3 linked regions of the Homo sapiens genome follow. The protein of the gene in region 2 purifies or fractionates together with the protein of the main gene of each other region. This does not show direct contact. Each region holds a gene or a part of one and is shown on either strand. Other genes may lie near its edges. The genes, in order: CCDC124, CASTOR2 and MIOS.

Region 1 (3,612 bases), on a different chromosome or scaffold from region 2:
CTCTGCCTTACTTTCCGGCAGCCCTGCAAACAAGAGGACCCCGCGGGGCACAAGCCCTGAGGTTGTCTGCTCACGGCCAGGCCTACCAGGAGGCGGCCTACCCACCCACCCTGCACCACGTGGAGCCCCGGCAGCTTCTCTGGGGGCCAGGAGGGGGCTAATGGACTCAAGGTCCACTGCCTCTGCAGTGGGCAAAAGTGCAGCTCCAGAGCGGGATGCCGCCCGACCTGTGTCCGGGGCCTCCCTGAGCTGATGGTCTCGGCGCAGCGTGTCCTCGATCTGGGCCCGGGTGACCTTGCTGGACGTGGCCACCCGCGGCGCCTTGCCGCCCTTGAGCTTGGAGTCCTCCTCCTCCAGTAGGCGCTGCGTCTCCTTCTTACGTTCCAGCTGGTCGAGGCGCCGCTTCTCCTTCTCCTCCTGCGGGGGCGGCGTGCATGGTCAGGCAGAAGACCCCACACCCCCGCGCCACCCACTAGCCTGGGGTTCGAGTTTTCATCTCAGCCAACGAGGATTTAGGCTCTGTGCTGGGTGCAGGGGACATACCAGGAACAAGATAGGTCCCGGTGCTGCCCTGGGCGGGGGATGTGAGGCCAACAGGGGAACCTTGGACAGGGCGGGTGGGTGGCTCTTGAAGAAGTGACGCTCCTAGGTGCGAAGAGCGCCGGCCAAGGGGGAGAGCTGGGGAACAGGAGCGTCCTTAGCAGCAGGGCTACCAGTGCAAAGGCGCCGAGGCAGGAGCCATTTGTTGTAACAGGAACAGCTTGGAGGCTGGAGTGGGAGTGAAGCGGGAGGGGGAAGAGGCCGGGAGGGAGACGGCTGGGCCATGCGGAGCCTCTGGGGGCCAGGGAGGGGTTCATGTTGGATTCTAAGAGCCGTGGGAGGCCTGGACCCGTTTCAGGCTAGGGCAGGGGCTCTGCCCTTATGAGTCGGGCAGCACTGTCCACGTTTCCCTGCCGTGGGTCACTGAGGCTGAAACTGATTCCACATCGGCCGCCCAGGGAAGCCCTGATGCTGGCTGGATGAGGGACATCTGGGCTACGGGACTTGCCCTTGCCCTGGCCTGCACGGACCCCAGGGGGCCGAGCAAGCCCACGGTTTATATGCAGTGCTGCTGGAAGCTCAGGGCAGTACTCTGCCCACTGCCTGGCACTCCTGCAGGGCCCTGGTCTCGGACACCCCTGCCTGCCCCCTCACTGCCTGAGACTCCACCATCTGACTCTCACACCTTCAGCCTTCCCAGGGACGATCCCCACACCTGCAGTGTCCCCCTGGGACACTACCACTGCATCTCCAGATAGATTTGACAGAAGGGAATGTCGCAGAATAGGGGTGGACGCACCTAAGGACACTGCCAGGGCCTGACCCCCACCCCCACCAGCACAGCAGGAAAGTGGAGGGGGCGGTTAAAGTCAAGGCTGTTGGAGTGCACAAACTGGGCTCCCATTGCTGTGCTGAGGAGCCTTAGTTTCCCCCTCGGTCAGAGGCAACGTCCCGAGGCTCCCCGACCGATGCGTGTCACACACACATTCTGCCTCAGACAGGGTCCTTTTTTTTTTTTTTTCTGAGACAGTCTCTCTCAGTCGCCCAGGCTGGAGTGCAGTGGTGCGATCTCGGCTCACTGCAACCTCTGCCTCCCGAGTTCAAGCAATTCTCATGCCTCAGCCTCCCAAATAGCTGGGACTGCAGGTGCCCACCACCACGCCTGGCTAATCTTTTGTAATTTTAGTAGAGACGGGGTTTCACCATGTTGCCCAGGCTGGTCTCGAACTCCTGACCTCAAGTGATCTGCCTGCCTTGGCCTCCCAAAGTGCTGGGATTACAGGTGTGAGCCACTGTGCCTGGCCAATGCATGATGTTTGAAGTGAGGAGAGGTATCACTGGTGGGGGACTGACCAGGAGGGGTATGAGGGAAACTCACGGGGGCTGAGAATATTCTAGAGAGCAGGGGTTGACAAACTATAGCCAACTAGCCAACTGCCTTCTTTGGTAAAGGTTTTTTGTGTTTTTTTCGTTCGTTTGTTTTTTCGAGACGGAACCTTGCTCTGTCGCCCAGGATGGAGTGCAGTGGCGCCATCTCGGCTCACTGCAAGCTCCTCCTCCCGGGTTCATGCCATTCTCCTGCCTCAGCCTCCTGAGTAGCTGGGACTACAGGTGCCTGCCACCATGCCCGGCTGATTTTTTGTATTTTTAGTAGAGATGGGGTTTCACCGTGTTAGCCAGGATGGTCTCGATCTCCTGACCTTGTGATCTGCCCACCTCGGCCTCCCAAAGTGCTGGGATTACAGGAATGAGTTACCGCGCCCGGCCCTTTTTTTTTTTTTTTTAGGTGGAATCTTGCACTGTCGCCCAGGCTGGAGTACAATGGTGCAACCTCTGCCTCCCAGGTTCAACCGATTCTCCTGCCTCAGCCTCCGGAATAGCTGGGATTACGCACACCCGCCACCACGCCCGGCTAATATTTTGTATTTTTAGTAGAAATGGGGTTTCACTATGTTGGCCAGGCTGGTCTCGAACGCCTGACCTTGTAATCCACCTGCCTTGACCTCCCAAAGTGTTGGGATTACAGGTGTGAGCCACCATGCCCGGCCCCTTTGGTAAAGTTTTATGGGCATGCAGCCACACCTATTTGCTAACCTACTGTCAGTGGTGGCCTTCATGCTCAATGATAGGGTCTAGTGGCTTCCTGTCTGGCCCTAAGTGAAGTCTAAGCTATTCACCACCTGGCCCCAATTGCCTGTCCAACCCCCTCCATACCTTGTCCCGGATGCATGCAATACAGGTGTGCTCAGAGGTACATGCTTTCTGACCCACACTCCTAGGACAGGCATGCTTTGCTGTCCCTTAATCAAATCTCTTAACAGGCCAGAGGCGGTGGCTCACGCATGTAATTCCAGCACTTTGGGAGGCCGAGGTGGGCGGATCACTTGAGGTAAGGAGTTGGAGACCAGCCTGGCCAACATGGTGAAACCCCATCTCTACTAAAAATACAAAAATTATCCAGGCATGGTGCCATGCCTGTAATCCCAGCTACTTGGGAGGCTGAAGCAAAAGAATCGCTTGGACCTAGGAGGCGGAGGTTGCAGTGAACTGAGATCACGCCACTGTACTCCAGCCTGGGCAACAGAGACTGTCTAAAAAAAAAAAAAAAAAGGCCAGGTGCGGTGGCTCACACCTGTAATCCCAGCACTTTGGGAGGCCGAGGTGGAAGGATCACTTGGGGCCAGGAGTTTTAGACCAGCCTGACCAACATGGTGAAACCCCATCTCTACTAAAAATGCAAAAATTAGCCTGGCATGGTGGCGCACACCTGTAATCCCAGCTACTCGGGAGGCTGAGGCAGGAGAGTTGTTTGAACTTGGGAGGCAGAGGTTGCAGTGAGCCGAGGTCGCGCCACTGCACTCCAGCCTGTGCGACAGAGTGAAACTCTGCCTCAAAAAAAAAAAGCCTCTTAACAAAGGAGAAGGTGCCAGTCTGGCTCCAGCTCTTCCTCATAGCCACGTGATCTGGGCTTTCTGCCTTCTCTGCCTCAATTTCCTCATCCAGAGGATGGGGCCAACCCCAGTGGCCAAGACGCAGGCCACAGGGAGGATTAAGCCAATGATCTTGACACTA
Region 2 (4,307 bases):
GGACCCTCAGGGCATGCTGTGCTAGTCTGGGCTAAACTTAGGTTTTGGAGAGGGAAGTGACAGAGCTATGGGTCACCACCTGGGGGCAGGGATTGCAGGAACAATCTAAGGGGTTCTACCTGGATGGCTGATTATTGAAAACAGTTTAAATGCTATGTCGGCAGGCTGCGACCCATTAACACTTGCTAAAAAGCCATTTCCCACAATCGTCCCACACCATCCACACAGCAGTTCTGTGTCCATGAGGGGGCCAAATAGTGCTATCTCTATTTTACAGACGGACGAAGTGTGAGCCAGAGGAGACAGACTTCGCCTCAGCCAGGCAGGCAGGGGGCTGTGGTCACACATGACCTGAAGCCATGATCTGGGCTCAGAGTGCATGGGGTGGCAGGTCCTCAGGCATTTGACAAATGTTCCGCACCTTCTGAGGCCGGACCATGGAAACACAGCGATGGCCTTTGGCCTCTGAGTCATCTTGAAACTGGACTAGTCAGCTGGGTCACCTGGGCCTGGGACAGGACAGGCTGCTTTCTGCAGGAGGGAGGAAGGGGGACCCACTGAGGGACAGGTCTTCTTGTGTTCCCAGAGGCCAGCAGGGGGGCTTGACCCCAGAGACACGCCTATCCATGAGTACCCAAAGGGGATCCTGAGTTGGGGGCTGGAAGAAGGCCAGTCTCTCCACCAAGGGAAAGGGGCTGAGGGACCCTGCCCTTTGCTGCCTTTCTAAGAAGCCCCCAAATGCCCCCGCTTCCAGCACCCAGGCCCTGTGCACAGCCGCAGCCTGAGTCATCATTCTCATTTGAATGGTGGCCGAGAAATCAGCCAGGGGGCTGCCCAGGGCTGAGGGCCAAGGCTAGGAAAAACAAGGCTGTTCTGTTACCTCCAAGCTTTGGAACGTCAAGCCCGGCTAGGGAGTGGGGGGCAGAGGGCAGGCAGAAGCAGGATCTGAAGGTGTCAACAGCCAGAGGGGGCTTTGTGTGAGGGGTGGGGGCGCGGTTCAGAATCCGAGCTGTTGGCTTTTGTTTTCAAATGACCTGTTTAATCATTACCCTTTGCAATCAACGGGGAGCACAGGCTCCGTGGCAGAGGCTTGGCGACTATTTCAAATCTCCATCCCCTACTGAGCAGCCGGAGAAGAAAGTAAACAAGATGCCACCGGCAGGTCTGGCTCCATCTCGCAAACAATAGCCGGACTGAGCACCCGGCTCAGACACACACATCAAAGTGAGATTTCCAAGCAAGAACTTTTCACAGGCAGATAACAGGCTGGAATTATTTCCCTGTGTCCCTAGAGCTCAGTGCCAAAGGGGGCAGCCTAAGGGGGCTGTCATTTTCACGCTAACCTTGACCCGAAAAGTATTCATTCATTTTGCAGTGAGGGAGAGCCACCACCGCCCCAAACCGCGAAAAACCAACCAGTAACAACTTTATCATTCCTTTTTAACAGTCACAATGGTGGGCAAATGAGACTTAAGTTACAGCAGCTAGCTGGCACTCACACTCCCCTCGGCTCAGGCTCCTTAAACAACAACAACAAAACCCTAATGCAAGCACCCACCGGGGCTCACAATGTCAAACCCTTACCTGGCATAGGGAAAATCCAAGTGAGAGAGAGAGAGAGAGAGAGAGAGAGAGAGTGTGTGTGTGTGTGTGTGTGTGTGTGTGTGTGATTCCCTCTTTTACCTTCCAAGGCCTTCAACTATTTTTCCCCCTGCAGCATCCAAGCCCAGCCTCAAGGCAGATGCATAAACATGCCTGCTCCTCCCCTTCTACGGTTGGGCAAAACACCCCCCCACCCCCTTTCCAGGACCCCAAGGAGAAAGAATCACGTCCTCTGCAGCCCCTCCCTGGCCCTCGCCCACCCCCCGTTTCCCCCCCGCAATTCCAGGCCGTCCGCAGCAAGCCTCGTAGGCACCTTGAGATAAACACCCACTAATGATTTTATGATTTTCTGCTCTGGGTAACCGCGCTCAGCGGAATCCCTCCCCCCGCCGTGGCGACGGGGCCGGCCCAACCGAGGGATGGGGGGATGGGGGCGTTTGTTTTTTCCACGGCCTCGTCCCCACACCTGTTTTTCATTCATTCATTCGTTCGTTCCTTCATCCATTCACGGATCCGTCACTGCAGCCGCCCCAGCCCCCCGGATTTCGGGGAGGGGGCTGCGATGGGGGAGGGGGTGGGAGATGGGGGGGACGACAGAGGTGGGGGGTGGCGCACCGGGGGGTGGAAGGTTGCGAGGGGTCCGGGAGCCAGGACCCTGCGGCTCCGGCTTTGTCAGACGCGAGCGAAGCGGCGGCGGGGGCGGGGCGGGGGCGCTCCCGGGGCCCGAAGTTGTTTTCCGAGGCGCGGCGGCGAGGACAGCGGCCCGGGGTGCGCCCCCTTTGTCTGTCCCCGGCCGGCGCCGCGTCCCCGCGCGCTTACCTGGTCTTGGAGGACAGGAAGGCAAGTTTGATCAGGCCGTAGGTGAACAGCGGGATACTCTCCTTGGCGACGCTGGCAACTTGCAGCCGGTGCTCCAGGATGTGGAGTTCCATCGTCCGCCCGCGCCCCGTCCGCGGCGGCTCATCCGCGGGGGGACGAGCCGCGGCCCCCGCCCCCTCCGCGCCCTGCCGGCACCGACAGCCGGCCCGGAGACCCGGGAGCTCGGCGCCGGGCGCGGGGGGCGGCGGCGGCCGGGCCGGGCCGGACAAAAGGGAGGAGGCCCGCCAAGTTGCAAGGGGGAGCCGCGGGGCGAGGGAGGCAGCGCCGGCGGAGCAGCAGCCGAGGGGCCGAGCGGCGGAGCAGCGGCGCGCGGCGCCCGGCGCGGGGAGCAGCTGGTGTTCGCTGTAACAAACAACTTGCCACTCAAACGCCGGTCCCCGCTGCGCATGCGCGGCCCGCGCGCGGCCTGCCGGGACTTGTAGTCCGCCTGGGGGGGGGCTCCCCCGGTGCTGTTGCTGCTGTTGCTGCCGCGGGGGCTGGGCGGCCGGAGCTACCGGCAGCCCGGTGCACGGGAAATGCAGGAGCGCGGGCACCCTCAGGACTAAGGGGAAGGCCGAGGGGAGGCACGGGGCGGGTGGAGCCAGCCTGAGCCTAGGCGCGCCCTCTGGCACCCAGTCAGGCTCGGTACTAGGTGCTTGGAGTGTAAAGCGAGCAAACCAGACGACTCCGGTGCTGGAGAAGGCCCGAGTCTGGGAGCGCCAAGATGTAGGGCAATCGGTCATGAGAGTGCAGAGAAGCCAAACCGAAAAGCTTGCTGGGGACCCGGAGGGAGGGGATTGACAGGTCAAAGGGGGTGACCCGGGGGAGGGGACACTCAGGCTGGGTTTTGAAGGATGAATGGGAGTTCGTAGCAAGAGAGTGAGGGCGCGCGGATGGAGGACAGAGGCCTTCCAGGCTGCAGGAACAGCGTGTCCTAGGGCACAGAAGCGTGAAAGCCCCCACGGTGCTGTGTTTGGCTTTGTTGCAGCGGAAAATGTGAGGGAGGAGAGAAAAGAGATAAGGCAGGCATAGTCACCAGGAGTCAGGTCGGGAGGGTCATGTGTGCAGAGCTAATGAGGTGGCCATTTATCCCACTGGAGAGGGGGTGATGGGGACTGCGAAGGGTGAATTCGGGGAAAATGTAAAGTGCGTCTGAGGCACTTCCAACCCCAGGGCCCACGCGCCGGGACCACAGAGGTTCCTCCTTCATGGCTGTCTGGTTTTGAAATGTTCTGGGTTAAAGTGATTGGTGCTTCCACCTTTGGCAGAGTAATCTGGGGACGCGATGGGTGAGATCTATCTGCCAGGGCAGGCTGAGAACTCTCTTTCAGGGGAAAATTGCAGTTGTGCTCCCTCACCTTCCCTCAGCCCTCCTCTGTTAGGTAGGAACATACTAGGTTTTGTCATTTCCACAAAAGGGTGAAAAGCCTGTAATCTGTGGTAGATAGATCTTAGAGCATGCATATCCCCCTCCCACTTTATTTTCTTTTACTCTTTTTCTTTTATTTATTTATTTTTTAGAGACAGGGTCTTGCTCTGTTGGCCAGGATGGAGTGCAGGGGCGCAATCATAGCTCACTACAGCCTCGAACTCCTGGGCTTAAAAGATCCTCCCACCCCAGCTTCCCCAGCAGTTGGGACTACAGTTATGCCTGGCTAATTTTTTTTTTTTTTTAACTTTCTTTTTTCCCCCCCGAGATGGAGTCTTGCTCTGTCGCCCAGGCTAGAGTGCCATGGCGCGATCTTGGCTTACTGCAACCTCCTCCCCCTTGGTTCAGCGATTCTCGTGCCTTGGCCTCCCAGCTAGCTGGGATTACAGGTGCTGGCCACCACGGCTGGCTAATATTT
Region 3 (4,117 bases), about 67 Mb from region 2:
TTCCCTTTAATCATCCATCTCTGTCTCTTCTACTGGATTATACACTCCATGAGAGCAGGTGAAGTATTTTTGGTGTTCCATTGTACCTCTAGTCCCCAGTACAGTGCTAGGCACTTAGTAGGAAGTTAATAAACATTTGTTAAATAAATGCATGTGCTGAATGATCCCTCTGACACTTCTCACAACTGCTATCTCCAAGTTTTACCTATTTCCTCATGCTTCCACTTCTACGCTCCCTAGGAGAGGCTGGCTCCGGCCAAGATTTAAATGTCTGCTATTATACTTTCATTTATTCTGTGACTATTGATTGGGCACCTTCTATGTTCTAGGCATGGTTATGAAGCTGGGAACACAGCAGCAAACATGAGCCGATGAAGTCTCTGGTCTAAAAAAAACCTGCACTGTAGTGATAAAATTAAGTCCAACCTTAAAAAGAGTTTCAAAATTTAAGAATGAGGAGGAAGAGGGGCACCTCACGTAACAGGAAGCAGCTACGACAGCAAAGAGGAACAGATACTGCCAAATAAGGGTTCATACTCATACCCCCACAAAGGAAATCTCTTAATTGGAGACATCATGAGATCTGGGCCATTTTCCCATCTCATTGAAAAATCAATGTTTAAATAAACACACTTTTTATCTAGGCTTTCATTCCACAACCCGACTCTTTATACCAATGGTCTATGGTAAGCAATCTTGATGCCACAAAGAAAAATCCATCTTACAAAACATAAAATACGAGTTTTAGCATAAAATTTAAAACTTTGATTTACATGACTCTCAACGGAGAATATCAGCATTTCTTCCCATGTTATGCACCTAAAATACTTCTATTGCCATCCACAAAATCTGATGACAGTAATTCATACAGAATCAAAACTTGAGAGAAAAAGACTAGCTAAATCTTCTAATTTCACAAAGGAGTAAAGTGAAGACCAGATGTTTGGGTGGTTATCCAAGGTCTCTCAACTTCCGTCCTAGATTACTGCAAAGAAAAGGATCAGCTACACGATATGCAGGACGTGGTGCAAAATAACAATGCAGGGCCCCTCATTTAAAAATTATTTACAATGTCCAGACAGTGACAGCAGACTGGCCATTAAACTAAGTGCTAGCCATTCTAAATGCTGGGCTCTGTGCTACTGCACAGGTTGCACATCATAAGAGTAGCCCTGTATAGAGAGGTGCATCTATGTCCACCCTTTTAAGAAGTGTATTTTTTTTCACCATGTAATATACAGGATAAACAGTTCCTTGCTCATGAACATACATCACCAAGAATCTGGTGTAAAGAAAACAATCTAGAGTCAGAAATCCTACAGCCACTCCCCAGCTCAGATCCTAACAAATCTTGTAATACTCCAAAACCATAAAACCGAGATAAAATCTATCCCATTTCCATCTCACAAAGCTGTGACAATCAACTGAAATGAGCTCTTCACATCACACAGATGTTAGTATTACTACCATTCCCTTAATCAGCCCTGAAAGTTAATGTTTTTTCCAAATTTTGGAGACATTAAAAAATTAGGTGTAGAAGGGGTGCGGTCTGCAATAATTACAGCTTGTATTTATATCCTCACCTTTCAAGTTTAACAAGTCTCACTTCCCATCAGTGATTTCTCAGCAAAGGAAAGCCATGCTGATTCTGTGTTCATTCACCAGAATATTTGCAACAGCACTGTCCAAAAGAAATACAGTGTGAGCCATATGATTTAAAAATTTCTAGTAGCCACATTTAAAAAGTAAAATTAGGTGGAATGAAATTTAAAAACACATTTTATTTAGCCAACATATCAACAGCATTATCCTTTCAATATGTAATCAATGCAAAAATTATTGAGGATTTTTACGTTTTTTTGGCACCAACTCTGGGAAATCCGATGTGTATTTTACACTTATAGCACATCTCAATCCCATGTGGCTACTGGACAGTGAAGTCCAACACATTAAAATACTACTCAGTGTACAAAGGATCCAACCACATGCTTTTTGATGTTGTCTTTTACTTTTCTTACCGTGGCAAATTACGAGAGCGGTTTCAAGAAATTTCCACCATCAGCATCTTCGAGGAGATGCACTGCACATATCCAAATTTCCCTTAAAATATACAAAAGGCCTGCAGTCATTTGCTAACCTATTCAGCAAAGTCCACAACATGTGTGAGGTTTCATTCATCCTCTTAATTTTCATTACTCATATGAGAAGAGAACAGAGCTCACCGGGAGACAGGCCGTTTAAGAAGTATAGTATTTAAGAGGGTACAACGGGAACAGGGCACGTTGCTATTCTAGGTAAAGCAGGAATCTGAGTCCGACTCTCCCGCTCCAGGCACCTGGCTGAGCCTCCCGGGAAAGGCTGGGACGCCGCTCCCCACAAGCCCGCCGCGGCGAAGGCTGTAGCGTGTTCCCTGCGCCCCGAGGAGGTCTCCGCAGGTCCCACGGCCGCCCGCAGCCCCCGGTGGCTCCCGCTGAGGCCCGGCCAGGCGGCCGGCCGCCCGGCGCGATTACCCTACAGCGCGGAACGCGCTCCCCGCCGAGACGCCCGGGCCTTTCAACTAGGCTATCTCCGGCCCCTCGCTGCGGCCGCGGCGCTCCCGAGAGTCGAGACGCGAACCGGGTCGCGCTCACTGACCTGAGGTGGCAGCGCGGCCGCCGCACAGCCGCTTCCGGCCGGGACACCGCCCCGCCCGCCGCAGGAGCCCGGACGCGGGCAAGATGGCGGCCGCGGCCGTGCGGCCCGTGACCTGGACCACTGGGCTGGGACCCACGACCCCACCACCACGCCTGGAGGACGCGCAGCGGCGCCTCGGCCTTGGAAGGGGAGTTTCCCAGCGCGAGCCCCGCCCTTCCCCGCCCGGGAGGCGCCTCGGGGCGGGGTCACTGGCCGGGAGGCCCCGCCTTCCGCCCGAAAGCGCCGGTGCACCCCGCAGGCCCTGCCCGTGGGTCCACAGGCCGGATCCCCGGGTTCCTAGGCTGGGACTGCTTCTCAGAACCACTCTGTCGTTTTTAAGCAGGGTCACACACTCTAGCTCACTGGGTCCATTTTAATTTCTATTAAACATTTTTTTTTTTTTGCAAATGATGTAGTAGGAGATCCAAGGTGTTTGGTTAATGATTTATTCACTCATTAGTCATTCCACAAACTTGTCTTGAGCACCTGTTATGTACCCAGCACTGTGCTGGAATGCTGAGGAGACAGGAGTGAAGTAAAAAGACATGGTTCCGGCAGGAAACAGGCAAGGAGAGCCTTGACTTGGTAGGGCTAACACAGTGCTACACAGGAGGGACGCCCGCTCGGTGTCGGGGGTCAGCAAAGCTTCCTTAAGGACCACTAGGTTGAGACAAGAAGGATGAGTATGGGATTAGCCAGGAAAGGGAAAAGGGCAGTGGGAACTGGAAGAGAAGAGCCTTCTAGGACTGGGAAAGAGCAAGTGCCGGGTCAGGAGAGAGGACATAGCAGTGAGGAGGCAGTAGGTATGGATGAATGAGCAGAGGAAGTGGGGAGAGATTAAGGTGCTTTCAGAAACGGGTTGGAAACCAGTTTAGTGAGTTTGGATGGCATTTACCTAAAGGCAATGTTAGAGTCATCGAAAGTTTTTAATCAGGCAAGTGGTATGATCAGTTTTTTGTTTTGTTTTGTTTTTTTTGAGACGGAGTCTGGCTATATCGCCAGGCTGGAATGCAATGGCGCGATCTCTCCTCACTGCAACCTCCGCCTCCCGGGTTCAAGCGATTCTCCTGCCTCAGCACCTCGAGTAGCTGGGACTACAGGCGCGCGCCACCACGCCCAGGTAATTTTTTGTATTTTTAGGAGAGATGGGGTTTCACCATGTTGGCGAGGGTGGTCTCATTTCTTGACCTCGTGATGCGCCCACCTCGGTCTCCCAAAGTGCTGGGATTACAGGCATGAGCCACTGTGCCCGGCCAGTATGATCAGTTTTTGCGCAGAGAGCTGGAGGGATAGAGTATCAGAATGAGGGATGATAGAAACGCAGGTTACCAGTGGCACGGAGAGTGGGCATGGAGAGAAGTGGGGGCCCTGGGGAATACTTAGAAGGCGGGATGAACAGAGCTTGGTGACTGACCAAGTGAATGACGGTGAAAGAGGATTCCAA

The links.
Region 1: the proteins of CASTOR2 (region 2) and CCDC124 fractionate together in Homo sapiens (co-fractionation; one large-scale study listed by BioGRID). This does not show direct contact.
Region 3: the proteins of CASTOR2 (region 2) and MIOS purify together in Homo sapiens (affinity purification with western blotting; one study listed by BioGRID and IntAct). This does not show direct contact.

What each region holds. Positions count from the first base shown.
Region 1 is NC_000019.10:17,939,461-17,943,072, reverse strand, and holds part of CCDC124 (coiled-coil domain-containing protein 124), read right to left. Parts: intron 418-3,612; coding exon 228-417; intron 1-227. UniProt on the Homo sapiens protein: Ribosome-binding protein involved in ribosome hibernation: associates with translationally inactive ribosomes and stabilizes the nonrotated conformation of the 80S ribosome, thereby promoting ribosome preservation and storage.
Region 2 is NC_000007.14:74,963,213-74,967,519, reverse strand, and holds the start of CASTOR2 (cytosolic arginine sensor for mTORC1 subunit 2), read right to left. Parts: upstream 2,816-4,307; 5' UTR 2,535-2,815; coding exon 2,422-2,534; intron 1-2,421. UniProt on the Homo sapiens protein: Functions as a negative regulator of the TORC1 signaling pathway through the GATOR complex. As part of homodimers or heterodimers with CASTOR1, directly binds and inhibits the GATOR subcomplex GATOR2 and thereby mTORC1.
Region 3 is NC_000007.14:7,565,590-7,569,706, reverse strand, and holds the start of MIOS (GATOR2 complex protein MIOS), read right to left. Parts: upstream 2,824-4,117; 5' UTR 2,635-2,823; exon of another isoform or gene 2,101-2,634; 5' UTR 2,019-2,100; intron 1,682-2,018; 5' UTR 1,584-1,681; intron 1-1,583. UniProt on the Homo sapiens protein: As a component of the GATOR2 complex, functions as an activator of the amino acid-sensing branch of the mTORC1 signaling pathway. The GATOR2 complex indirectly activates mTORC1 through the inhibition of the GATOR1 subcomplex.